Linked DNA regions of Homo sapiens. The protein of the gene in region 2 purifies or fractionates together with the protein of the main gene of each other region. This does not show direct contact. Each region holds a gene or a part of one and is shown on either strand. Other genes may lie near its edges. The genes, in order: PKN1, MAGEA10, PHF8, CCDC106, ERI1, FAM216A and YEATS2.

What was found.
Region 1: the proteins of MAGEA10 (region 2) and PKN1 purify together in Homo sapiens (affinity purification with mass spectrometry; 4 studies listed by BioGRID and IntAct, with this or other methods). This does not show direct contact.
Region 3: the proteins of MAGEA10 (region 2) and PHF8 purify together in Homo sapiens (affinity purification with mass spectrometry; 4 studies listed by BioGRID and IntAct, with this or other methods). This does not show direct contact.
Region 4: the proteins of MAGEA10 (region 2) and CCDC106 purify together in Homo sapiens (affinity purification with mass spectrometry; 4 studies listed by BioGRID and IntAct, with this or other methods). This does not show direct contact.
Region 5: the proteins of MAGEA10 (region 2) and ERI1 purify together in Homo sapiens (affinity purification with mass spectrometry; 4 studies listed by BioGRID and IntAct, with this or other methods). This does not show direct contact.
Region 6: the proteins of MAGEA10 (region 2) and FAM216A purify together in Homo sapiens (affinity purification with mass spectrometry; 5 studies listed by BioGRID and IntAct, with this or other methods). This does not show direct contact.
Region 7: the proteins of MAGEA10 (region 2) and YEATS2 purify together in Homo sapiens (affinity purification with mass spectrometry; 4 studies listed by BioGRID and IntAct, with this or other methods). This does not show direct contact.

Annotation. Positions count from the first base shown.
Region 1 is NC_000019.10:14,460,806-14,464,305, forward strand, and holds part of PKN1 (serine/threonine-protein kinase N1), read left to right. Parts: intron 1-2,861; coding exon 2,862-2,937; intron 2,938-3,022; coding exon 3,023-3,164; intron 3,165-3,254; coding exon 3,255-3,348; intron 3,349-3,500. UniProt on the Homo sapiens protein: PKC-related serine/threonine-protein kinase involved in various processes such as regulation of the intermediate filaments of the actin cytoskeleton, cell migration, tumor cell invasion and transcription regulation.
Region 2 is NC_000023.11:152,135,778-152,139,797, reverse strand, and holds the start of MAGEA10 (melanoma-associated antigen 10), read left to right. Parts: upstream 1-1,220; 5' UTR 1,221-1,323; intron 1,324-2,828; 5' UTR 2,829-2,927; intron 2,928-3,717; exon of another isoform or gene 3,718-3,808; intron 3,809-3,963; 5' UTR 3,964-4,020. UniProt on the Homo sapiens protein: Not known, though may play a role in embryonal development and tumor transformation or aspects of tumor progression.
Region 3 is NC_000023.11:54,013,474-54,016,973, forward strand, and holds part of PHF8 (histone lysine demethylase PHF8), read right to left. Parts: intron 3,264-3,500; coding exon 3,122-3,263; intron 1,091-3,121; coding exon 904-1,090; intron 1-903. UniProt on the Homo sapiens protein: Histone lysine demethylase with selectivity for the di- and monomethyl states that plays a key role cell cycle progression, rDNA transcription and brain development.
Region 4 is NC_000019.10:55,646,823-55,651,011, forward strand, and holds the start of CCDC106 (coiled-coil domain-containing protein 106), read left to right. Parts: upstream 1-1,389; 5' UTR 1,390-2,224; coding exon 2,225-2,255; intron 2,256-2,382; coding exon 2,383-2,487; intron 2,488-2,585; coding exon 2,586-2,762; intron 2,763-4,189. UniProt on the Homo sapiens protein: Promotes the degradation of p53/TP53 protein and inhibits its transactivity.
Region 5 is NC_000008.11:9,001,573-9,005,696, forward strand, and holds the start of ERI1 (3'-5' exoribonuclease 1), read left to right. Parts: upstream 1-1,324; 5' UTR 1,325-1,491; coding exon 1,492-1,599; exon of another isoform or gene 1,600-1,758; intron 1,759-2,501; exon of another isoform or gene 2,502-2,724; intron 2,725-4,124. UniProt on the Homo sapiens protein: RNA exonuclease that binds to the 3'-end of histone mRNAs and degrades them, suggesting that it plays an essential role in histone mRNA decay after replication.
Region 6 is NC_000012.12:110,478,845-110,482,344, forward strand, and holds part of FAM216A (protein FAM216A), read left to right. Parts: intron 1-3,500.
Region 7 is NC_000003.12:183,809,297-183,812,796, forward strand, and holds the end of YEATS2 (YEATS domain-containing protein 2), read left to right. Parts: intron 1-722; exon of another isoform or gene 723-1,155; intron 1,156-1,178; coding exon 1,179-1,287; 3' UTR 1,288-3,328; downstream 3,329-3,500. UniProt on the Homo sapiens protein: Chromatin reader component of the ATAC complex, a complex with histone acetyltransferase activity on histones H3 and H4. YEATS2 specifically recognizes and binds histone H3 crotonylated at 'Lys-27' (H3K27cr).

The DNA.
Region 1 (3,500 bases), on a different chromosome or scaffold from region 2:
CTATATATTATCTATCAACCAATCTATTTTTCCATGCATCCGTCTCTATTATCTGTCAGTCATCTTATCCATCAATCTTATGTATGCATCATCCATCCATCTATCCATCCCTGTATATTTCTCTGTATATATATCTACCCATTCCTCTCTCTATCTCTATCTATCCCTCTCTATATCTATCTGTGCCTCTGTTTTTCTCTATATAGCTATATCTATCTATCCATCCATCTATATTATCTATCAACTAATCTATCTTTCCGTCTACCCATCTGTCTATATTATCTATCCATCTATATTATCTATCTATCATCTTATCCATCCATCCATTTATCTTATCTATGCTCATCCCTCCATCCATCCATCTCTGTATATTCCTCTATCTCTATTTATATCCACCCATTCCTGTCTCTGTCTCTATCTATCCCTCTCTGTATCTATCTGTGTCTCTCTCTCTTTTTCTCTCGATAGCTGTATCTATCTATCCATCCATCTATCCATGCATCCTTCTCTTTCTATGAATCCCTTTCTCTATCAGTCCCTCTCTCTTTCTCTATCTGTAACTACCCTTCCGTCCATGCCCCTCTCTATCTACCTGCGTCTATATCTGTCTCTTTCTGTGTCTATTTATCCATCTCTCTATATCCATATCCCTAAGCAGAGGTTCTCCCCTGGTCTGACCATCAAGCACCAGTGAAAGAAAGGGGCGGGGCCAGGCACAGTGGCTCACACCTGTAATCCCAGCACTTTGGGAGGCTGAGGCGGGCAGATCACTAAGTCAGGAGTTCGAGACTAGCCTGGTCAACATGGTGAAACCCCGTCTCTACTGAAAATAGAAAAATTAGCCGGGTGTGGTAGCAGGCGCCTGTAATCCCAGCTACGCGGGAGGCTGAGGCAGGAGAATCAGTTGAACCTGGGAGATGAAGGTTGCAGTGAGCCGAGATCGCATCATTGCACTCCAGCCTGGGCAACAACAGCGAAACTCTGTCTCAAAAAAAAAAAAAAGAAAGAAAGAAAGGGGCGTGGAGAAGAGCTGACTCCAGATGGCAGAGGTTTAAAATTGTTCTCCCATTCAGAACACAGCCCAAACCAAATGGAAAGTGATGGTGGGTGGCCTGGGGGACACATTCTAAAGCGTTTCTCCTTGCCTTCAAGGTCTCTCTGTGGCATTCTATTTTGTTTTTATGCCTATACAGAAGCATTCTTCCATAGAACTTTTCTGCAGCTCTGGCCGGGCGCTGTGGCTCACGCCTGTAATCCCAATACTTCGGGAGGCTGAGGCGGATGGATCATTTGAGGTCAGGAGTTTGAGACCAGCCTGGCCAACATGGTGAAACCCTGTCTTTACTAAAAATACAAAAATTCGGCTGGGTGCGGTGGCTCACGCCTGTCATCCCAGCACTTTGGGAGGGTAGGCAGGCAGATCACCTGAGGTCAGGAGTTCAAGACCAGCCTGGCCAACGTGGAAAAACCTAGTCTCTACTAAAAATACAAAAATCAGCCAGGTGTGGTGGCGCACGCCTGTAATCCCAGTTACTTGGGAGGCTGAGGCAGGAGAATCACTTGAACCTGGGAGGCGGAGGTTGTAGTGAGCCAAGATCGCACCACTGTACTCCAGCCTGGGCAACAGAGTGAGACTGTGTCTCAAAAAAAAAAAAAAAGAAATTAGCCGGGCTTGGTGGTGGGTGCCTGTAATCCCAGCTGCTCGGGAGACTGAGGCAGGAGAATCTCTAGAGCCTGGGAGGTGGAGGTTGTGGTGAGCCCAGATTGCGCCACTGCACTCCAGCCTGGGCAACAGAGTCTCAAAGAAAAAAGGAACTTTCTGCAGCTCTGTTGTCGATGCACCCACAGTAGCTGAGTTCTGTTGTAGATGGAAATGTTCTCTATCTGAAGTGTGACCAGTGTGACCAGGGAACCAAAGTTTTAATTTCGCTGACATTTTCACTAATTTAAATCGCCACATGTGACAACCATACCAGACACTGCAGTTCTGTGACTTCAGCACCTTCTAGAAGTTGTATTGGAGTTGGGAGAATTCAACTTGACAGGTGGCTTCCATAGATGGGTGGGCACCAGCATTGCCTGGGGGCTTGTTGAAATACTGAGTGCTTTAGGGCCGGGCACGGTGGCTCGCGCCTGTAATCCCAGCACTTTGGGAGGCCAAAGTGGGCAGATCGCTTGAGCCCAGGAGTTCAGGACCAGCCTGGCCAACATGGTGAAACTCCGTCTCTACAAAAATACAACAATTTGCCAGGCATGGGGGTGCGTGCCTGTAGTCCCAGCTACTCAGGAGGCTGAGGTGGGAGGATCTCTTGAGCCCGGGAGGTGGAGGCTGCAGTGAGCCGAGATCGGACTACTCATATGTGCATATATATATGTGTGTATATATATATATGTGTGTGTGTATATATATATATATATAGAGAGAGAGAGAGAGCATGCGCGCGCTTCCTCCACTCCATGTTTCTGGCTCAGTAGGTCAAACCTGCGTTTCTAGAAAGTTCCCAGGTGTTGCTGCTACTGCAGGTCTGGGGTCTGGGAGCACATGTGGGGAATGGGGTGTGGGATGGCGTGGCGTCCGTTTGCAGTCGCTGTCTGTCAGTCTTGTTGGGTCAGATGCTCTCCCCACCTCTAGAAAGGGACCCGGTTGTTTGCTTCTTGCTTTTCCAAGACGTCCCTTCAGGAGGGGAGCCATGGGTTGCACCGATGACCTCTTCATTGTCACCTGGTACTCGGGTTGAATCTGATGCCACGTGACCAGAACCCCACTTGGGCGCGCACACCTGTGCTCCCAGGGGCTTCCTTACCAAGCTGTCTGCCTGCAGGTGGGCAGAGGGTCCTCACATTTTGGTCCCTTCCCCCAGGTCACCTTCCGCAACCCTGTCATTGAGAGGATTCCTCGGCTCCGACGGCAGAAGAAAATTTTCTCCAAGCAGCAAGGTGAGAGGGTGCTCCAGGCTTCCTGGGGGAGAGGCCAGGGGTCCTGGGAGTGTCATGGAGGGTGACGCCTGCCCCGTCCCCCCAGGGAAGGCGTTCCAGCGTGCTAGGCAGATGAACATCGATGTCGCCACGTGGGTGCGGCTGCTCCGGAGGCTCATCCCCAATGCCACGGGCACAGGCACCTTTAGCCCTGGGGCTTCTCCAGGATCCGAGGCCCGGACCACGGGGTAAGGAAGGAGGGCCCCATGGTCCCGGCTGCCCCTTGAAGCCTGCGAGGGTCCTGGGTCCCAGACACACCCTCCTCTCGTCTGCTGCAGTGACATATCGGTGGAGAAGCTGAACCTCGGCACTGACTCGGACAGCTCACCTCAGAAGAGCTCGCGGGATCCTCCTTCCAGCCCATCGAGCCTGGTGAGGGTCCCCCCTTCTATCCCCGTAGGCCTGGCCTGGGCAGCGTCAGGGGTCCTGCTCCAGGCTCAGAGACCACTAGGAACTTCCCTGGAGCCACGCAGCATGTCTGTGGCAGAACCAGGGCCCAGATCTCTATGCTGGTTAAAACGTGT
Region 2 (4,020 bases):
TATTGCACAATCTGAGGCAACACTTCATACCACGATGCCAGTAGCCCAGTAGCTCTGGAGTGATATCAGGACAGCAGGAAAGACGGGGTTGATTGAGGGAGTATGACTCCGGAGTCTATGCTGCTAACCACCTAAAACCACCACAGTGACGACTGGTCTTAGTTGATCCTCTGCTACAAGTTAATAATTCTTTATATTAAATTTTCTTGCTCAGAAAAAAAGAGAAAAATTATTATAATAGAATATAAAGAATAGACCAGAAATAGAATAAGCAGTGAACCACACAGCGTAAGGTAGGTATTCTTTCATGAAATGTTATATATGTATTCAATATACACTTGGCAGACATTTAAAACACATATTTTTACTAGGAATGAGGGTTAGAAAACCAGACATCACTGCATTGGACTATAAAATATCAGCTAAACTCAAAACAGCAGGACCTCTCCACACCCCGATGCTCAGCCTCTTTCTTGTAGAAAATATACCCTTTAGGACAAAAAGTTTGCCAAGTCTACTTGTGGCTTGGGAAGAGCCCCGTTGGGAAGGTGTGCGTCTTCTCCCATAGGTCATTACAATCACGGGTGTTGCAGCTCCCCAGGGACCATCTGGCCTGGGAACCGCACCCATGCTCTGCAAGGGATGCAGCTGGGCAAATGATCAGAGGTGACGGAAACTGAGCATCTCCCACCCATCACTTCATCAAAGAGACAAAAGCCAGGAGGAAGACCCTCCTGAGTGAGGACCGAGGGTCCACCCACCCCTCACAAAGGGGCCACAGAATCCAGCTGAGCCCCTCTTGTCAGCCCTGGAAGACCCTGGCAATGTTGTCACCCCTACCACAACCCTCCCCTCACTGCCACCTTGGAAGACTCCGAGTCAAGAGACCTGGTTTAAGGGGAGAAGACATCCTCAGCACAAAACAGGGGTCCAGGCTTTTCCAGGCATCAAGGTCGAGACACTGAGGGATGACTGAAAGACCCCACCCCCACCCCCACCACGACCCACAGCCCCAAGATCCCCATCCCAGTTCCCACCTCCACGCCCCTCCCCACACTCATCTTCACCACCACCCCTGCCCCAACCCCATCCTCACCCGTACCCCACCCCACCCGGACTCCCACCCTCACTCCCACCCCAACTCCCACCCCAGTTCCGGCAGAATCCACTCCGCCCCTGCTGTCAACCCAGGGAAGCCCCGGGGACCGGATGTGACGCCACTAACTTACGCCTCGGGGATCAGAGAGAAGCGAGGTTCTCGTTCTGAGGGACAGGCTTGAGATCGGCTGAAGAGAGCGGGCCCAGGCTCTGTGAGGAGGCAAGGTGAGAGGCTGAGGGAGGACTGAGGACGCCCCCAACCCAGATAGAAAGCCCTAAATAATACAGCGCTGCCTCTGCTGCCAGCTCTGGACCACCTGAGGGCAGACTTCTCAGGCTGGGCTGTCACCCCCCCCCCACCCCCGCCCCCACTCTCTCCCGCCGCTTAAGCCGCAGGGGACTCTGGGAGTCAGAGCTTGGTGTGACCAGGGCCCGGCTGGTTCGGCGGGAGCCGCGCCTAGGTTCTGCCAGCATCAATGTCGGGACGCTCAGGGAGGGCTCTGCCCCTGATGTCGGCCCTGGGAAGCCCTGGTCATGGCGACCAGGAACGCAAATTCTGACGTCGGCATCTGAGGCTGACGTAGGGAAGGGGATATTGGTACCAAGAATGCGGCTTCAGGGGAGCAGAGGGAAGGCCCGGGCCCTGCTGGGAAATGAGGGAGGCATGAAGGGATCCCAGGACAGGGTGCCCACCCCACCTCTGTCTCAGACCGAGATGTCTCTTCACTCGGCCTGAGGAATCCAAGGGACGGTGACTCAGGTCTGCGGCGGGGCGTGGTAGAGGAGAACAACCCAGCCAAGAGTCAAGGGGAGGAAGAAGAGAAAGGACTCAAGGGACCTTGGAGTCCAGATCAGTGGGGACCTCAGCCCTGGGTGGTTTCAGGCACGGTGGCCCATGTGATGTGTCTTTGCTGTGCCTTTGGGGTGTCAATGAGGAGAGGGCTATGGTCTGAGGAGTGGAGCCTCAGGTCAGCAGAGGGAGGAGTCCCAGAGCCCTGAGGGAGGACTCAGCAGATCCCCGCATCTCAGAACTAGGAAATCTGTCCCTCTTATCAGCTCTGGAACCCCAGGCAGGACGGTGAGGAAGAGAAGTGGCCCCCACTTTCTCACCGGGGATCCCAGGGAGATGGTGGCTTTGGCGTGCAAGACCCATACACGATTCAGCAGGAGGGAAAGGGCTGGGCCCTGTCGGGAGTAAATCTGAATACCTGGAGGACACCCAAATAAAGGAAGTCCCCGTCTTGTCCCCCTCCCCTGCCCACCACCCCCCCCCCCCCCCCCGCCAAATGTCTGCTCCTTCTGTCAGCTTTGGGAATCCCATGCAGGTGTGATCGTGTGGTGCCCCTCCCCACTTCTGCCTGCCGGGTCTCAGGGAGGTGAGGACCTTGGTCTGAGGGTTGCTAAGAAGTTATTACAGGGTTCCACACTTGGTCAACAGAGGGAGGAGTCCCAGAATCTGCAGGACCCAAGGGGTGCCCCCTTAGTGAGGACTGGAGGTACCTGCAGCCCAGAAAGAAGGGATGTCACAGAGTCTGGCTGTCCCCTGTTCTTAGCTCTGAGGGGACCTGATCAGGATTGGCACTAAGTGGCAAGCTCAATTTTACCACAGGCAGGAAGATGAGGAACCCTCAGGGAAATGGAGTTTTGGTGTAAAGGGGAGATATCAGCCCTGGACACCCCACAGGGATGACAGGATGTGGCTCCTTCTTACTTTTGTTTTGGAATCTCAGGGAGGTGAGAACCTTGCTCTCAGAGGGTGACTCAAGTCAACACAGGGAACCCCTCTTTTCTACAGACACAGTGGGTCGCAGGATCTGACAAGAGTCCAGGTAAGGAACCTGAGGGAAATCTGAGGGTACCCCCAGCCCATAACACAGATGGGGTCCCCACAGAAATCTGCCATGACCCTACTGTCACTCTGGAGAACCCAGTCAGGGCTGTCCGCTGAGTCTCCCTGTCTTATACAAGGATCACTGGTCTCTGGGAGGGAGAGGTGTTGGTCTAAGGGAGCTGCACTCGGGTCAGCAGAGGGAGGGTCCCAGACCCTGCCAGGAGTCAAGGTGAGGACTGAGGGGACACCATTCTCCAAACGCACAGGACTCAGCCCCACCCTACCCCTTCTGTCAGCCACGGGAATTCATGGGGAACTGGGGGTAGATGGACTCCCCTCACTTCCTCTTTCCATGTCTCCTGGAGGTAGGACCTTGGTTTAAGGAAGTGGCCTCAGATCAACAAAGGGAGGGTCCCAGGTCGTATCAGGCATCAAGAAGAGGACCAAGCAGGCTCCTCACCCCAGTACACATGGACCCAGCTGAATATGGCCACCTCTTGCTGTCTTTTCTGGGAGGACCTCTGCAGTTGTGGCCAGATGTGGGTCCCCTCATGTCTTCTATTTCGTATCAGGGATGTAAGCTTTTGATCTGAGAGTTTCTTAGACCAGCAAAGGAGCAGGGTCTAGGCTTTTCCAGGAGAAAGGTGAGAGCCCCACGTGAGCACAGAGGCTCCCCACCCCAGGGTAGTGGGGAACTCACAGAGTCCAGCCCACCCTCCTGACAACACTGGGAGGCTGGGGCTGTGCTTGCAGCCTGAACCCTGAGGGCCCCTCAATTCCTCTTTCAGGAGCTCCAGGGACTGTGAGGTGAGGCCTTGGTCTAAGGCAGTGTTTTCAGGTCACAGAGCAGAAAGGGCCCAGACAGTGCCAGGAGTCAAGGTGAGGTGCATGCCCTGAATGTGTACCAAGGGCCCCACCTGCTCCAGGACAAAGTGGACCCCACTGCATCAGCTCCACCTACCCTACTGTCAGTCCTGGAGCCTTGGCCTCTGCCGGCTGCATCCTGAGGAGCCATCTCTCACTTCCTTCTTCAGGTTCTCAGGGGACAGGGAGAGCAAGAGGTCAAGAGCTGTGGGACACCACAGAGCAGC
Region 3 (3,500 bases), about 98 Mb from region 2:
ATGTGGACATTTCCATACATGCTGATATGAGTATAAACTGGTTCAATTAAGAAGGTAAGAACGGCTGGGTGCAGTGGCTCACGACTGTAATCCCAACACTTTGGGAGGTGGAGGCAAGCAGATCACTTCAGGTCAGGCGTTCGAGACCAGCCTGGCCAACATGGTGAAACCCCGTCTCTACTAAAAATACAAAAATTAGCTAGGCGTGGTGGTGGGCGCTTATAATCCTAGCTACTTGGGAGGCTGAGGCAGAAGAATCGCCTGAACCCGGGAGGCAGAGGTTGCAGTGAGCTGAGATCACGCCACTGCAGTCCAGCACTGGCAACTGTCATCTTAGGTGACAGAGCAAAACTCCATCTCAAATAAATAAATAAAATCTTTGTTTTTACTCTGCCTCAACAACAACAAAAAAGAAGGTAACAACCAGGAAAACCTCAGGCATCTGCTATTATTCAAAAACGTTTGATTCGTCAAACATTTTTGAATCAATTTTTTTTTTTAAGATGGAATCTCGTTCTGTCGCCCAGGCTGGAGTGCAGTGGCACAATCTCGGCTCACTGAAAGCTCCACCTCCCAGGTTCATGCCATTCTCCTGCCTCAGCCTCCCAAGTAGCTGGGACTACAGGCGCCTGCCACCAAGCCCGGCTAATTTTTTTTATTTTTAGTAGAGATGGGGTTTCACCGTGTTAGCCAGGATGGTCTCAATCTCCTGACCTCGTGATCCGCCCGCCTCGGCCTCCCAAAGTGCTGGGATTACAGGCGTGAGCCACCGCGCCCGGCCAAATCAAATTTTTTTTATTCAAAATGTAAATCAAACTGATTCAAAATGTTTCTGTGCTGCCATGTGACACGTACAGGGAGGCCCAAGGCCTGGCTGCCTCCAGAAGCCATGCGCATTCCTACCTTGAGTACATGGTACCAGACAGAGGTGCCACCAAAGTCAATGTGAAAGTCTGTATAGCTATCTCGCACACTCATGAGGCAGTACTTCTGTACATTGGGTCTCTCAAAGACACATTCCTCTGGCCACAAGTTTTCGACCCATGACAGCTTTCGAACAATCTTCGGTGTCTCCACAAGGTTAGAAAGTCTACCAAGGAAGGGGTGGAGAGCAGATGTCAGCTGATTAGGAAGAGAAGATTGAGGCCTGAATAAAATACCCCACAGTTCAGTGAGGGTCAGATAAGTCAGAGAACAAGTTCCCTCCACAGAATCCCCAAAGGCACATAGGACACTTATTTCTGTTCTGTAAGTCTGGTCAGTATCCTCATTCTACTCATCTCCAGAAGTCCCAAGTCCAAGCTCCACAGGCTTCTCCAGTCAAAGGTGTTCATTTCCTCCACTAAATGCTCATACTCCCCAGCCCCACTCCAGACTACTCACTTGGCATGTGGATTATAGAAGTTATTGCACTATCCCCATCTCATAGTGTCTTCTTTATGAGAAACCACTAGAGCAACCTCACAGGGCTCAGTTCCAGGTAAAGAAATGTTTCTCTGAAACATCTGTTGCTTTTATCCTACGTAAAGCCACAAATCTTACAATACTGCACTCCTCTCTTTGTTCTGACCTTCAGGAAATTCACTGAAAACTCTATAGTCCATTTCCACCAACCGGGAAATGTGCTGAGCACCCACCACATGCATTCTATTTCCCAATCTTATTTCACTTTTGTTCTAGTTTTCTCTCTTTTTTTTTTGGCTTCTCCACATCTCTGTAAGCTACCTTGAATAGTCTTTCAGGATGAAGTGAAGTATAAACAAACAAATACAGTTTTTAAACACTCTCAGGTTGTTTAACCTTGCATCTTAAAAACAACAGCGCCGGGCGCGGTGGCTCACACCTGTAATCCCAGCGCTTTGGGAGGCCGAGGTGGGTGGATCACGAGGTCAGGAGATCGAGACCATCCTGGCTAACACAGTGAAACCCCGTCTCTACTAAAAACATAAAAAATTAGCCGGGTGTGGTCGCAGGTGCCTGTGGTCCCAGCTACTCGGGAGGCTGAGGCAGGAGAATGGCGTGAACCAGGGAGGCGGAGCTTGCAGTGAGCCGAGATCATGCCACTGCACTCCAGCCTGGGTGACAGAGCGAAACTCCGTCTCAAAAAAAAAAAAAAAAAAAAAACACAACAGCAAGGGTCTTAATATTGTACCGTAATTACATAATACGTTACCATTGAGGGAAAGTGGCTAAAGAGTACACAGGACCTCCCTGTACACTTTTTTGCAACTTCCTATCAATCTACAAATTAAAAGTTAAAAATGTAAATAATCAGACAGTAAGTTTCCTAAGGGCAAAAAGATACATTATGATTTCTTGGTATTTCCCACATTTCTGACCCAAAGAGAAGACTATATACGTATCTACTGTGTGTGTGAGTCCAGATAGAATCATTTAAAGGTAAATAGGTTTCTCTTTTTCTTTTTAAATGTAAGAAACCTACATGGGGGTAATTTTAGTAAATCTATTTCCAGGAACTGAGGACCTATCCCACCAGTTACACAGTGACTGTGGCACTGTTGTATATAGGAGGAAAAGGTCAAAGAAGGGTGTCCTAAGGTCTTGAAAAAGGAGACAAAAATTAATTAAAATAGCTACTATGTAATCTATCCAATGCTAGAAACTGTGGAGGAGAAATATGACTCAACTGTTACAACGTGAGCAGCTACCCTAGAAAATATAACCCAGCTCGCCATCCCAAAGGAAGAAACCACCAGGAAGAAGAGAAAGGAACACGAGGCAAGGTGCGGTGGCTCATGCCTGTAATCCTAGTACTTTGGGAGGCCAAGGCGGGCAGATCACCTGAGGTAGGGAGTTCGAGACCAGCCTGGCCAACATGGTGAAACCCCATCTCTACTAAACATACAAAAATTAGCCAGGCATGGTGGCGGGCGCCTGTAATCCTAGCTACTCAGGAGGCTGAGGCAGGAGAATTGCTTGAACCCAAGAGGCGGAGGTTGCAGTGAGCCAAGATCGTGCCACTGTACTCCAGCCTGGGCGACAGAGCAAGACTCTGTCTCAAAAAAAAAAAAAAAGAGAGAGAAACACGAATATACACTAGATATATCACACAAGTTTCAGGCACTTTGTCAGGTTTTTTTGTTATTCCTGCACCTCTTACCTGGTATCAGAGAATTCCAAACTAATGACATTGAGGACTTTCTCCCTCTTCCCGCTGTAATAGTATTTCACAAAATCACCAAGCTTCATCTTGCAGTCAGCCTGGCGGGTCACATCAATCACATCAATCTCTTTGTCAGAACCTGGAGTAAAGAGATAGGTTCTGCACCAAGTAGTCTCAGGGACTGTGGAAGACTCTCTTGTCCCCTCATCAGTCCCTAGAATGGCCTTACACTCAAAGCTTCTCTCCACTGACACTGTACATATATGTGTGTGTTTGTTTGGGGGGCAGGGGAAGGAACCCATCGCACTTTCCTTAGATCTATGTGCCCTGCTAGGGCAATGGAACTACCAGACACACAGCCTCACACATAGTAGTC
Region 4 (4,189 bases), on a different chromosome or scaffold from region 2:
TACTATTTGAGACGGAGTCTCGCTGTGTCGCCCAGGCTGGAGCGTGGTGCGATCTCGGCTCACTGCAACCTCCACCTCCCCGGTTTAAGCGATTCTCCTGCCTCAGCCTCCTGAGTAGCTGGGATTACAGGTGTGCACCACCACGCCCGGCTAAATATTTTTTTAAACTGCTGATTTCATCCTATTCTATTGAATTCTCCACCCATGAACCTGTAGTTTGGAAAAGACCAATCTAGGGCAGATGGCTCCCCCTGGAATTTTTGGACCAGGCTGCAGTTAATCTGTAAAGTGGGGAGGGGAGGATCATGGTCACAGCTTTGCAGGCGGTGCAGACATTTAGATTCTCCCTCCATCGGGTTAAGACCTTGCTCTTATAAGGGCTGGCCACAGTCCAGAGCTTGGATGCTTCTGGTGAACAGGAGAGGCAGGTGGAGCTGAGCCTGAAGCTTAATAAACATCTGCTTATTCATTCATTTTTCTTGCCTATTTTGTGCCAGGCACTGTGCTAGGCCTCATTTGCTCTTCCGACCTGTTTTTTTGGGAGGAAGAACAAATCTTCCGTTCATACTCCCCAGAGTGGGAAAGAGCCTCCCAGAGGCTGCCATCATACCCCACCATCTGACCTCAAATAATACCAGCAGCGCTCCTCTCTTCAGCCCTGACGATGGCCAGGTGCTGGGCTGAGCTTCTGTGTGTCGCATCACTGCATCCTCACAATAAATTTAGAAGGGCTTGTAATTTCCCCATTTTGCAGGTGAGTTAACAGGCTGGGGAGGAGCAGGAACAGTCAGGACTGGAATCTAGCTTTGCTCCAAAGCCAGCTCTTAATTACCAACATGGGGATGGGGGTGGCGTGTTCCTGGCCCTCATTTTCCGGGAGAGGGGTAACTCCCCCGATTTTGGCCCCCACATCCCTGAGAACCTTGGGGTCTGGCTGTAGGAGGTAGGGGAGCTCTGAGGGGTCCGCGCTGGCTAGTTCCTGAGAGAGCGTTAAAAGTAGATTCTCCTTTCGCTCCAACTTTCTCGGTGTCTCAAACACTCTCCTGCCTTCTGGGCCCATTGGGCACACCGCCACCCAATCCGGGGACCCCCGGAGACTCGCCAGCTCTCCAGGATGGGAATTTCGTGATGTTCCCTGCCTGAGCTTCGGGGAGGGCGGGGGAGTGCTGTAAGGGGCTATCGCGCAAGTGCAGACCCTCTGCTTCTGCCGCAAACGGCGGGCCTCACCTGGACCCGGGGACTCTTCAACGAGGGGCGCTAGCCTGGCCCGACTGGGCGAGTCCCCGCGTCCCTGCCCGTTCCGTCGCTCAGTTCCACGACACGCTCCCCTGCCGCCCCGCCTGTTCGCGGGTGGGTGGGCGCTTCCCTCGGCTCCCCGTGACACTTTGCAGACGCTCCCCGGCGCCGGGCATGGGCGCCGCCGCCGTCGGTCCCCGAGCCGGATTCCGCGAGCGGGTGGGTGAGCGCGGGGGGCCTCGGCCCCTCGGACCCCGGGCACCCGCGGGCGGGGGATGGTGGCCGCGTTTGCACCCCCGCCCTAGTGCATGTTCCCGCTGGAATCGTTCCACGACCGCTCCCCCTCCCACCCGCGGGACAAAGGGCGGGGGCGGGGGGGGCGCACCCCCACGCGTGACCTTTCCCCGTACTGCGCACGCGCCCAGCCCCCACCACCGGGGGACGGTCCGCCCGCCCACGCGAGTGCGGGGGAGGGGTGTGGGGGCCCCGAAGGTAGAGGAGGCAGCGCGCACGGGCTGGACCTCCTCCTACCCTGGGAAGTTGGGGCAGTTTCCCCCTGCACCTGCCTCTTCCTTAGGCCTGGCAGTGGCCCGCGATGAGAGAGGGTCCTTCCCCTTCAGGCTAGGTGTCCCTGGTCAGGCGACCCCTTGGGGCACCCAGCAATTTAGGGCTTCAGCTTCCTTTTCCTTCGATACCCAGGAGCCCACGTCCCCAGCTCACTTCTCCCCCAGGACCTAGGCGGCTGGGCCCCCTGCCCCTGACTCCAGGAGCCCAGGAGTTTGAAGCCCAGGCGCGTTTTGCCTCAGTCCTGGGGTCCAGGCTCCCTCCTCCCTCAGACCAGGGGTCCAGGCCAGAAGGTCCCTCCTGTCTCACTTCACCTCCCCCAGGATGGACCCTCCAGTCCATCTGCGTCTCTCCATTTGTGGCTGCCGTTTCTGTCCAGTGCCCCTGAGGCCCTCGGCTGCTGGGGTCCGTAGGAAGCCGCGCCATGAATGACCGGAGCAGTCGGAGGCGGACAAGTGAGGAAGCTGGGTCCCCTTCCCTACCCTGGGTCCCAGTGCGGTCGGCTCCAGGCTGCCGTGGTTGGGGGGTGGCCTGAGAGGCCCGGGGAATTCTCTGGGGTAACCCGGGGCCTCTCCTCTCCAGTGAAGGACGATGAGACCTTCGAGATCTCCATTCCCTTCGATGAGGCACCCCACCTAGACCCACAGATCTTTTACAGTCTGAGCCCCTCTCGGAGAAACTTCGAGGGTGAGCTGAGGGGGTGTGGAGGGACTGGAGTCAGCTGGGAAGCCAAGCCCTGAGTCCCAGGGTGTGACCTGGTCCCCCCACCCTCGCTGTGTCCCTAGAGCCTCCGGAGGCTGCGTCCTCCGCCCTGGCTCTGATGAACAGCGTCAAGACCCAGCTGCACATGGCTCTGGAGAGGAACTCCTGGCTGCAGAAGCGCATCGAGGACCTGGAGGAAGAGAGGGACTTCCTGCGGTGCCAGCTGGACAAATTCATCTCTTCTGCTCGGATGGAGGCAGGTGTGTGTGGGGTGCTCTGATCCACATGCCTCCCTGTCCCGCTACTGGGTACCCGCTCACCCAGACTCAAGGCTCCACTGTTTGGCTGGCTGGGTGGGACCTGCCATGTTGGCCCTATCTGCTAGTCCCCTGCCTGTTTTGGGCCCCCAGGCCCAGCTGCCTCCTCACTTGATTCCAGGGCCTCATCCCCATGAACTGTCTACTGGGGCCCGTCCTCCTGCCTTCTCCGTCAGCTCCCCAAATCCCATCAGCCTCCAGTGCCCTGCCATCTGCTTCCTTGGCCCATGGTGACTTCAGGGACCCTGGCACCTGAGAGCCCCTCTCTTCTGACTCCTAGGGGGACCTTCCTTCATCTCTTTGGCCAAGAGGCCCACCCTAGTTCTTTGGGTTTCCTCAGGGGGCCCCTGCTCCTCCTCCCGTCCCTGTCTTCTCCAAGATCCAAGAGTCCAGCCATCCGGCCTCCTCCTGTCCCCCCCTCCCCTCTGTGACACCAGGGGCCATCTTCCCACCCACCCTGTCCCATCCTTGGTTAATGAGCACTCCTTCCCCATCAAAGACATTAAGTCCCTTCCTTTGTGGGCCTTTTTGGGTGGTGACCCCAGCAGGTGCTGTCCCTCAAACCCTGCCTGATTCCTGGGCAGTCCCCACCCACATACCTTGCTCTGCTATAATTCATGGCCAGAAGCAGCCCAGATAGCTCCCACAGCAGCACCCAGCCCCAGCCAGTTCACAGCTAGCGTCTTCTCTTGACTGGTGGGACCCTGTGCCCTGTTTAATACATTTTGGACCCCAGCCCCATCCTCTTCCCCGGATGGTCAGGCCGTTTGCCCGACAGCCCATGGCCTGGAGAACCCACACTCTACCCCACCTACCCTCATCTCAGCCTTGCTAGCTCCTTGGCTGGGAAGACCCCTCAAAAGCTCCCACATCTCTCTTTGTGAATTCAACCCTTTCCCCAAAAATCCTAGGCAAGGGGGCTATGGTCTTGTGGTGTCTCTGTTACTGGAAGCCCAGCATCTGGGGATCTGGCTTTCCCTCTGCTCGGGAACAAACCACCTCTGGCTGCCCTTGGGCCTGCCACTGTCTCCTCTCACTGATGGTTCCATCCTGGGTGACTGACTCCTTTGCACAGACAGTTTGGCCCTGCGGCTTCGGCACTTTCCCAGTGGGGACCCTGGCACCAGAGCCCTCCCCTAACCCGCCTTCTAGAGGAATCTGTGTCTGGGCCTCCGCCTGCCGGCTCCCTCTGTCTAGATGGAGGTGGGACCCAGCCTGCTGGACCCAGGGCCCCTGATTTCTCTCGGTCTGACCCCCCGACTCCAGCCAAGGCCTTGCCTGCCTCCTGGGTTTCCAGAGGCTACTCTCCAGAGGTCCCGCCCAGTCCCCAGAAATTTCTCCCTCCCCTATGGGAACCGCGCATAGTCACA
Region 5 (4,124 bases), on a different chromosome or scaffold from region 2:
ACAAAATCAGATGAGCTAGTTTATCCAAGATCAGGTGAGTCAGTTTATCAATCTGGGAGGTGCCAGCTGATCCATCAAGTGCAGGGCCTGCAAAATATCTCAAGCACTGATCTTAGATTTTACAATAGTGATATTATCCCCAGGAGCAATTTGGAGAGGGTTAGAATCTTGTAGCCTTCAGCTGCATGAGTCCTAAATCATAATTTCTAATCTTTCGGCTAATTTACTAGTCCTACAAAAGCAGTCTAGTCTCAAGAAGAGGGTTTATTTTGAGAAAGGGCTATCACCTTTGTTTTAAACTATAAGCTATACACTAAGTTCCTCCCAGTGTTAGTTTGGCCTACGCCTAGGAATGAATAAGGATAGCCTGGAGGTTAAAAGCAAGATGGAGTTGGTTAGGTCTGATCTCTTTCACTGTCTCAATGATAATTTTGCAATGGCAGTTTCACATCTGAGGTTTCTATTGCGTGTTCCATGGTATTCAATAATCTCTTCACTCTGGTTGCTGGGAGCTCAAATGATTCCCAGTTCTGTGTGACCTCTCACCATTGTTTGGTGTACTGCTCCCCAGTAATTGTTCTTTCCTGGCCTTGTGGAGTTTCACGTTTTTTATTCAGTTAAAGATTCAAGGTACTCCTAAGCAGATTTCTGAAGCTCTTTTTCCATGTAATTCCCTCCTCTCCAGAATTCTGCCCTACAAATTCCAACCGACTTGGCCTACCCCAATTTCGTCAACTCCAATCTCTGTCTTTTCAACCCAGGAGATCCTAGGTTTCCATATGATTTCCTTTCATCGCACCACAGACTGGAAATCGCCTCTGGGCAAAAGGGCAGGATGATATACGGCTCCTTTTATTTCTTTTCTCTCAGGTAAAACAGTCCACAGCTGTCCGTTGTCCAATGTCTGAATAGGTGTCTCCTATATTTTGTTCCGTTTTCTAATTGTTTATAGTGGGACACTAAGTCCCGACCCATTTTCTTTTCTTGCCCAGAGTGGAAGTTTTAGGAAACTCCTTATGGAAAATGTGAATTGTTTTATTATTTTTTATGGTCGAAAACATCTTTCTCTATGATATCTTCCCACTCACCCTACTTTTTTCCTTCTCAGGAAACACTGACGGGAACACACGTGCCGGTGCTACCCTCCAGTGACTGGACTAGATCCTTGCGCAACTTCAACCCGCGCTAGCTCCGCCTACGGCCGGCCACGCCCCGTCTTCTCACCGGCGCGCCTCCCTCTTGTTCGTCCTCCCTCCCCCTGTGGACTGCGGCGCTGGCGTTCCGCGCACGCCGGCTCACTGCGCCTGCCCGGCGTGTGGACGCCACACGCTCCCGGAAGTGGGAGGTGGCCGCTGGAGTTTGTGTGGCCGCCGCCGCGGGAACGCGAGCCCGGTAATTTTTCAACGGAGAAAGGCGAGGCTTTCGGGCTCTGCAGAGTGAGAGTTAGCAAGTGTCCGGCTCCAGCAACTCTCCTCTGGCGTGACAGCCGGCATGGAGGATCCACAGAGTAAAGAGCCTGCCGGCGAGGCCGTGGCTCTCGCGCTGCTGGAGTCGCCGCGGCCGGAGGGCGGGGAGGAGCCGCCGCGTCCCAGTCCCGAGGTGAGGAGTCGACCCGCGCCTGGCTGTTGGCGCCAGCTGCCCCGTCCCCAAAGCGCCCTCGGCACCCCTTTCTTCTCAGGTGTCCCGCAGAAGGTGCAGCTGTGCGCCCTTGGACCCCAGCCTCTTCCTCGGTGCCCAGCTCCCTGGCTTTATCCTCGGGTGGGTGTCTTGGAGCCCCCTCAGGGCCGAATCACTCTCTGGGAGGGAGGAAATCGTCAAGACCAGTTCTGTCTACAGTGGGTTAACAGGTTCTAAGAGGGAGTTTTGCTTTAAACTTAATTCTGTGTTCACGGTTGCTGTTGTCACTCCATGTAGCCGTTATGGGTAGTTTGCAAGGCTTTATGTTTTTAAAATCTCACCATATACGCTAGGTATGTCACTTCATGCCTGTTTTTAAAAAAAGAAAAAATTTAAAAAGCACTCACCAGCATCCCTGTCTCTGTACCTGTTAAGTGGAGCTTCGTCTTAGCTGCTTTTGCTCATTAACTGGTGTCTCATATAACCATAGTATAAGATTGAATGAATCATTTTGACATCTCATCGGTTGAACTTAGTTACAGTGGCAAAGTTGTAGAACAGTCTTAAAACTTATTTAACGAATGTTAATTGTTGACTAGCGCTGCGGATTGTAAGTGATTGAATACTAAAATTGATCTTTTCCTAATAATAAACATGTTGAACACTTCGTAAAGCTTCATAAAGTGCGTATTTGCAAGAGGCCTCCTAACTCTTGCTCCTTCCGTCCACAGTCAGTTTCCATCTGGCAGCTAGAATGAGCTTTTCAATAACATGAATTTGGCTTATTCCCCTCCTGAGTCACTTCCATTTGCTGCTCTGCGGGGTCGGGTGCCTGCCTCCCTTGGTAATTGCATCTCACACAGTTTTTTCCCTTTTGTTCCCAGTGCCCCTCGCTGCCTTGTGTTCTTTGACATTGGAAAGAAGGTCTCGTTAAGGATCTCTGTATGTTCCTTTTGCCCTGTGTGCACTTCCTTTGGATCCTTGCAATTATCTTTCTCCTTCTAAGGTTGTTATTTCAAAGAGTACTTGCACATCCCTTCTCTTGTAAAGAACCACTCTTCCACCTGCCTCCCTCTTCAGCCTGAGATACGTTGTCAATCTCATCCTGTAAGTGGGTTTTAAAATAAATTTCGAAGTTTATTTTTAGTAAAAGAAGTGTGTTTGAATATGCTTCTTTATATTTGAAAGTCTTGACACTTTTACAGCTACTTAAGGCCTAGGTCTCTGTTCCAAATTGGCTTTAGTGACGGTAGTAATTGTTAAAAACTTACTGTTGCATGCTCTTTATAGTGATACTTTTTTTTTTTTTTTTTTTTTTTTTTACAAAAAGCCGGTCGTAGTTGCCCTCTCCCGTAGTCCCAGCTACTGGGGAGGCTCAGTGGGGAGGATCACCTGAGCCCATGGGTGGAGGCTGCAGTGAGCTGTGATCGTGCCACTGCACTCCAACCTGGGTGACAGAGTGAGACCCTGTCTCAAAAAATAATAGTAATGATACTTTTTTTTTTTTTTTTTTGGAGACGGAGTTTCGTTCTTGTTGCCCAGTCTGGAGTGCAATGGCATGGTCTCAGCTTACTGCAACCTCCCGCCTCCCGGATTCAAGTGATTCTCGTGCCTCAGCCTCCCTAGTAGCTGGGATTACAGGAACCCACCACCACGCTTGGCTAGTTTTTGTATTTTTAGTAGAGATGGGGTTTCACCATGTTGGCCATGCTGGTCTGGAACTCCTGACCTCAGGTGATCCGCCCACCTCGGCCTCCCAAAGTGCTGGGATTACAGGCAATGAGCCACTGCGCCTGGCCATGATACAGTGTTTTTCAATCTGGGCCAAAGTTTTTTGTTGAATTCAGGTGGTAAATTTCCATTATCTCTAATGCTAGTTGTCTTTGTAAACTAGTAGAAGCTATTGCATATTTATATTTTTAATAAGTAGGTTCAGATTTCATCAGAACTCTCCTTTTGGAAGAACGTCAATCAAGAAAAATTCTAAGTTTTTTTTCAGTGTGCAGATGCAGAGGTTTTCCTTTTCTTTTTTTAAAAGGTAGTACCTAGATTTTTGGCAGCAGAATAATAGCATTTCCAGAACATGTTTTCAAAATGTTCTCTATACAGAAAAAGTTTTATTTGACAAGCAGTTACTTTGTAGCTTACTGTTAAAATGTGTTTTCTTTTTTCTTGCAACAACAGATTGTGTTCCTTTAAAAAAATGCTAAAAATCAAGCTCCGGTACCCTTCCCAATAAGAAGAGGACAGCAATTATAGAATACCTGTCTTTTTGTAAAAGAAAATTTGTAACTCATCTTTAAGTTCAACAACAGTTTTTTTATGTTTTTTTTTTTTTTTTTTGAGAGGGAGTCTCTCTCTGTTGCCCAGGCTGGAGTGCAGCGGCTCAGTCTCGGCTCGCTGCAAGCTCCGCCTCACGGGTTCACGCCATTCTCCTGCCTCAGCCTCCTGAGTAGCTGGGACTACAGGCGCCCGCCCGGCTAATTTTTTGTATTTTTAGTAGAGAC
Region 6 (3,500 bases), on a different chromosome or scaffold from region 2:
TTGTTATGGCAGCAAAATGAAACTAACATAGAGCCCCTTTTTAAAAAATTGTATATATTTAAGGCCGGGCGCGGTGGCTCACGTCTGTAATCCCAGCACTTTGGGAGGCCGAGGCGGGTGGATCACGAGGTTAAGAGATCGAGACCATCCTGGCTAACACGGTGAAACCCCCGTCTCTACTAAAAATACAAAAAATTAGCCGGGCGTCGTGGCTGGCGCCTGTAGTCCCAGCTACTCGGGAGGCTGAGGCAGGAGAATGGCGTGAACCTGGGAGGCGGAGCTTGCAGTGAGCCTGGGCAACAGAGCGAGACTCTGTCTCAAAAAAAAAAAAAAATTATATATTTAAAGTAGAGAAGAGTACGTAGAAACCAAGATCTGGGTGCTAGGTGTGCTTATTTATAATATACTTTCATTGCTTCTAGACTTTCTCCGAGGACAGTGCTGGGAAAGAAATGTGTGTGCATTTACCTGTGAGCACATACATACCCATACATATCTATTTCAATATTTCTACTAACTCCAAATTCCAATCCAACAAACAGGGTTTATTCTGTGCTTTCCTCTTTCCATATTAATAGGTAACTCGTCTCCAAAAGTGTGAGACCTGCTTATTAACTACAATATATTATTTGCTTCGTCCTAAGATGTATAAAAAAGTAGTTTCTAAAGTGCTAACACATGCTTCTGAAAAAAAAAAAAAAGAAGCCTAGTAGGCTGGGCGCAGTGGCTCACGCCTGTAATTCCAGCACTTTGGAAGGCTGAGGTAGGTGGATCACGAGGTCAGGAGATTGAGACCATTCTGGCCAACATGATGAAACCCCGTCTCTACTAAAAATACAAAAAATTAGCTGGGCATGGTGGCGCGTGTCTGTAATCCCAGCTACTTGGGAGACTGAGGCAGGAGAATCACTTGAACCAGGGAGTTGGAGGTTGCAGTGAGCAGAGATCGCGCCACTGCACTCCAGCCTGGCGACAGAGCAAGGCTCCATCTAAAAAAAAACCCAAAAAAAACAAAAAACAAAACAACAAAAAAAAGCCTAGTAGTTAATTAGAGATCAGTATTTGCTTAGAGTTGTTTTTGTTTGAGGGCATATAGTCCAAGCAGTATATTCAAAAGTTCTTGGGTTGGTTAACTATTTATTTGTGGTAAAATATACATAATATAAAATTTACTATTTTAATCTTTTTTTTTTTCTTTGAGATGGAGTTTCGCTCTTGTTGCCCAGGCTGGAGTGCAATGGCTCGATCTCGGCTCACTGCAACCGCTGCCTCCTGAGTTCAAGCGATTCTCCTGCCTCAGCCTCCTGAGTAGCTGGGATTACAGGTGCACCCCCACCACGCCTAGCTAATTTTTTTTTTTTTTTTTTTTTTTTTTTTGAGATGGAGTCTCACTCTGTTGCCCAGTCCGGAGTGCAGTGGCACGATCTTGGCTCACTGCAAGCTCCACCTCCCGGGTTCACGCCATTCTCCTGCCTCAGCCTCCTGAGTAGCTGGGACTACAGGCGCCTGCCACCATGCTTGGCTAATTTTTTTATATTTTTCTAGAGACGGGGTTTCACCATGTTAGCCAGGATGGTCTCGATCTCCTGACCTCGTGATCCGCCCGCCTCGGCCTCCCAAAGTGCTGGGATTAAAGGTGTGAGCCACCACGCCCAGCCTAAGGGTTTCACCATGTAGGCCAGGCTGGTCTCAAACTCCTGGACTCAAGTGATCTGCCCGCCTCAGCCTCCCAAAGTGCTGGGATGTATAGGCATGAGCCAATGCACCTGGCCCATTTTAATCATTTTTAAGTGTACATTTCAGTGGCATTAAGTATATTCACACTGTTGTGCAACCACTACCACCATCCATTTCCAGAAAGTTTTCATCTTCCCAAACTAAAACTCCGTACCTATAAAACACTAACTCTCAGGTGGGTGCAGTGGCTCGTGTGTGTAATCCCAGCACTTTGGGAGGCTAGGGCTGGAGGATCGCTGGAGCCCAGGAGTTTGAGACCAGCCTGGGCAACATAAAATTAACTTTAGTTTTTTTTGTCTCTAAAAGAAAATTTAAAAACAAAATAAAAAACCACTAATTCCCTATATACCTCCTTTCCCCTGACCTCTTGCAACCTCCATTCTTTCACTCCGTATATATTTGATTTTCCTAGGTATCTCATAAAAGTTAAATCATACAATATTTGTCCTTTGTGACTGGCTTATTTCACTTAGCATGTCTTCAGGGTTCATCCATATTGTACCATGTGTCTGAATTCTCTTATTTTTTTAAAGCTAAATAATATTCCATTGTTTGTATATACCACATTTTGTTTATATATTCACCTGTTGATGGATACTTGGGTTTCTTCCACTTTTTGGCTATTATGAAGTAATGCTGCTATGAGCATGGATAAATAATCTGTTTGAGTCCCTGCTTTCAGTTCTTTTGGAATTGCTGGATCAGAAGTGGAATTATTAGATTATATGGCAATTCTATGTTTAAATGTTCGAGGCACTGCCATACTATTTTTCTTTTTCTTTTGAGTCAGTCTCACTCTGTCACCCAGGCTGGAGTGCAGTTGCAGTAACTCAGCTCACTGCAACCTCTGCCTGCCAGGTTCAAGTGATTCTTCTGCCTCAGCCTCCCAAGTAGCTGGGATTACAGGGGTGTGACACCATGCCTGGCTAAGTATTTTGTGTGTGTGGTTTTTTTTTTTTTTTAGTAGAGACGGGTTTCACCATGTTGCCCAGGCTTGGTCTCGACTCCCAACCTCAGGTGATCTGCCTGCCTCAGCCTCCCAAGGTACTGGGGTTATACAGGCATGAGCCACCATGCCCAGCCTATTTATTTTTAAGTGCTTCATTTTCTGTAAAGAAATGTTATCAAGCTATTGAGAAATTAAGTGTTGGTCCAAAATATAATATGCATCTCAGAAATATTGTTTATTAAGGACACAATTCATATTCTTATATAAATAGCCTCTGTTTACAACTTGAAAAAGGATTTCCAAAACAAAAAACTTTTAAAAATCTTAAATTGGCATTCATATTATTACAGATTATAAGTTATGTTTCAAGGGTCATAATACAATTTCCAAATGATTTTCCATTTCTTGGTCAACTAGTTAGTCCTTACCTGTAGTATCCAACTTGCCAAAATCTTGAAGAAATAACTAAATTTAAAGTTTAATACAAAACTGAAATAGCCTGTTATTAATAATATTGAAACAAAAATGTGCTTATTGAATTCAACTAACTATATACTTTTTTTTTTTTTGAGACAGAGTCTCACTCTGTCACCCAGGCTGGAGTGCAGTGTTGCGATCTCGGCTCACTGCAACCTCCACCTCCTGGGTTCAAGAGATTCTCCTGCCTCAGCCTCCTGAGTAGCTGGGACTACAGGTGTACGCCACCACACCTGGCTAACTTTTATATATTTTTAGTAGAGACAGGGTTTTGCCATGTTGGCCAGGCTGGTCTCCTGACCTCAAGTGATCTGCCCGCCTCAGCCTCCCAAAGTGC
Region 7 (3,500 bases), on a different chromosome or scaffold from region 2:
TAGAGCCAGATGAGCTCAAGGGTCTGCTTTGTCATTTTTAGAGAACCTCATGGTTGTGAAAGCTCACTCAGCTTTGCTCAGAGGTTTATATCCTCCTCATTACTTCACAGACACCTAGGACTCTGTTTTATTACAGGGTTGAATAAATATTAGCTTTGCAATTAAAGATAACAGTGTCCATTACATGTCAGACACGAGGGCCAAGCGTTGCATATATTACCTAATTTGTTTTTCATTGCAGAACTATTATTCTCTTTTTAAAAATCAGGAAACCGGGCTTTGAAAGGTAATTTTACCCAGCTTACCCAGCAAATACAGTGTAGACCTGGACTTCCGACTCAGGTCTCATTGGCTCTGAGGCCCCTGGGCTCGCCACTGCTCTTTGCTGACTCGTTGTCTTTGATTAAGACACTGAGTTTCAGTCTGTTCCTAGGCCCTGAAAGGATGGTAGATAGGCCACATCTGCTTTTCTTTCGGAGGAAACAAATATTATTTTATTGCATTATGCTAAAGGCTGTCACAGATTTATAAAATTGTAGCAAAGTGCCTGAGGACATGAAGGGCCTAAATCAGAGGAATAGTAGATGAAACTTCACAGGAATATATCAGACAACATAGGCGTCTTTAGAGAAAAGGAAGGGGAACCAAGAGTTCCGGTCCTGCTGCCCACTGTCCTGCTTGGACCCACAAGTGAGCCAGGGCCTCCTGTGGCCCCTGCTTACCTCTGTGCTCCCTGTCCTGGAGGGGTAGAGTGACTTAGGTGCTTTTGATGGAACGATTAACATCACGCCTGGCCTGGCGTGGCTCCGTCTCCCGTCTTTCTAGGAGATGGGAAATAAGGTCCCAGAGTTTTGTGGTGCTTTGACTCAGCTTTCGGTCTGCTGAGACTCACTCACAAATGTGTCATTCCGTTCTGCCATCCGCTTTGTTTTCTTTCTCTTTTCTCAGTTCTCAGAATCTTTTTTCCTAATTATTCAACCAACTTGTTGACATCCTTCTCATGCCTATGACAGGAAGGCAGTCCTCACCCCAGAGTGGCCCTAAGCTATGTCTGTGGCTCAGGAGCCCTCTCCACGGGGCCTCTGCCTGGGATGGTCCCTGTGATGAGTTAAGTGAATAAATGATGAGATATACGTGAGAGAATTTCACCTGGTAACACCCTTTGTTTTTTGGACCAGGATTCCCAAAGAAATTACAGTGAGTAATATTCACCAGGCCATTTGCAACATTCCTTTTCTGGACTTCCTCACAAACAAACACATGGGAATATTGAATGAGGACCAGTGAGCGGAGTGAGGTGCCCTGGAGAAGCAGGCTTTGAAGGCACAGCGAAGCTGTAACTGAGGACCCTGCTGCTCGGGAAGGAGGTGGTTTCCAGTGTGACTCGGCATGTCATGGCTACCCAACCTTTGCCGCTGCCTGTTCCCACGTGTCACCAGCACGCTGCACTCCAGATGAAATCCTCCTAGGACAGGAGTTTGTTTCCTGAGTGTGGAGTGAGGCTGTCAGTGGATCCGTGCTTTGTCGGCCAGCGTTTCTGCAGTCTTTGTAAAGGCCCCACGAGAGCGGGCCAGGCCGTGTGCCTCAGGCCCTTCTCCCTGGGTGTGCTTAAGGGGGCTCCTTGGGCCCGCCTCCCCAGGAGGTAGAAAATGAGTGGCAGGCTAGAGATTTCACCCATTTTGTGGGCTGGAGTTACCAGTAGCTCCAGCAGTTACCCTGAAGAGAGATTGGGCTTCAGCCTTCAGCAGGTGGTTCTCTCCCATGCCTGGCCTTGGTGTGGAGGGGCTGTACTCTGAGCCCAAGTGAGTCAGCTATAGGAAGAGGCCATACCTAGAGCCAAGAACCATGAAGGCCTGAGAGACGGCAGACTGAGCAGAATTCCTTTTTTGAGCACGAGAGCATTACTAGAACCATTGTCAAAGCAGTGGCAAGGGACGGAGAGGTCCCAACAGGAGTCAGGAAGAGGTTTGATTATAACCAAGAAAACTCACTATGCTAGGAATAGACTGTGTGCACCAGTCCCAGACACTTGGCAGAAGTGTAGCAGCGTTACACATGTGTGCGAAGCAGATCGCAGGTTCCACGCCATCTGCATGGCCTGCAGGAGCTTCTGCTGCTGACCCCATGCTGAGTGGCCAGTGGGGAGCGGCGCCCGGCAGGCTCTTCTGGGGTCGTCTGTCCTATCCGTGGATTGTATATACTCTTCTCTGTTAAGGAGTTTTTCCCAAGAAGAAAAGTATTTAAAAGAAATACCAGTGAGTGCCTTAAAGTTGGAGAAGTAACTGCCCATGCCCAGAAATAAGGATGCCAGTGCCCAGAAGCAGTGAGATTAGTCTGTGTCCACAAGCAGAGGCCCCCTCGATGGGAGGGAGTGGCAGGCAGGAGAAGGTGGCGCTGCCAGGTGCCCGGGTCTATTGGAGGCGCCCCATCTCAGACTTCCTAACACAGCCTGTGTGGAAGGCAGAACAAAGAATGCATGCCCAGTCAGAAATCTGTTCTATTCTGCTCCAGGAAAATCGGAAACCTGTGAGTCAGAGTCAGAGAAACTTACCCAAGCAACGTAATTCCTGTTTTCATGGGTCCTGTAGATGTTTGAGTCAGGAAGGTAAGGCGGGGAGTGACTGAATAAACTCTGCCTTTTAAATTGAGCATCTGGGCCGGGCATGGTGGCTCACGCCTGTAATCCCAGCACTCTGGGAGGTCGAGGTGGGTGGGTCACCTGAGGTTGGGAGTTCGAGACCAGCCCGACCAACATGGTGAAACCCCGTCTCTACTAAAAATACAGAAAATTAGCTGGGCATGGTGGTGTGTGCCTGTAATTCCAGCTACTCGGGAGGCTGAGGCAGGAAGAATCACTTGAACCCAGGAGGCGGAGGTTGCAGTGTGCCAAGATCATACCACTGCACTCCAGCCCTGGTGACAGAGGAGACCCCGTCTCAAAAATTGATTGATCAATTCAGCATCTGAGGGCTGCAAGTACAGAAGGAATCTATTCTCAGCAGGGCATAGGGCACGCACTGGCTTAACAGTTTAGTATATAAGGCTCAAATAGTCTATACCTGAACTGCTATAAGCAAGGTCGATAGGGAAGTGGATAGATTGCTTCAGCAAAGTGAACTGTGAGATCTCCAGGACAGAGGGAGAAAGATCTGATCCAAATGAGAACAGATTGGTTATTGCAGGTATCACAGCCTAAAGAAATTATCTTTTTGCAAAAGAAATATTAAATGATTTAGCAGTCTCCACGTGTGTTAATGTTTCAAACGTGTATCATAATGTGTATAATTGTGTAACAAAATTGTCTACAATAAATCTTTTGGTATTTGTGGTGGGTGTTTCTGAGTTTGAAGCATGGTACTCAGGCAGGGTTCTCCCTGCACTGGGATGAGGTGATGGTGTAGAGTCTTATTGATATGTTTAAATTAATTCCTCTACTTCTTGCCAAAAAAAAAAAAATGTTGCAACCGTATAAGATAAAGGATTACAGTTACATAAAAGTC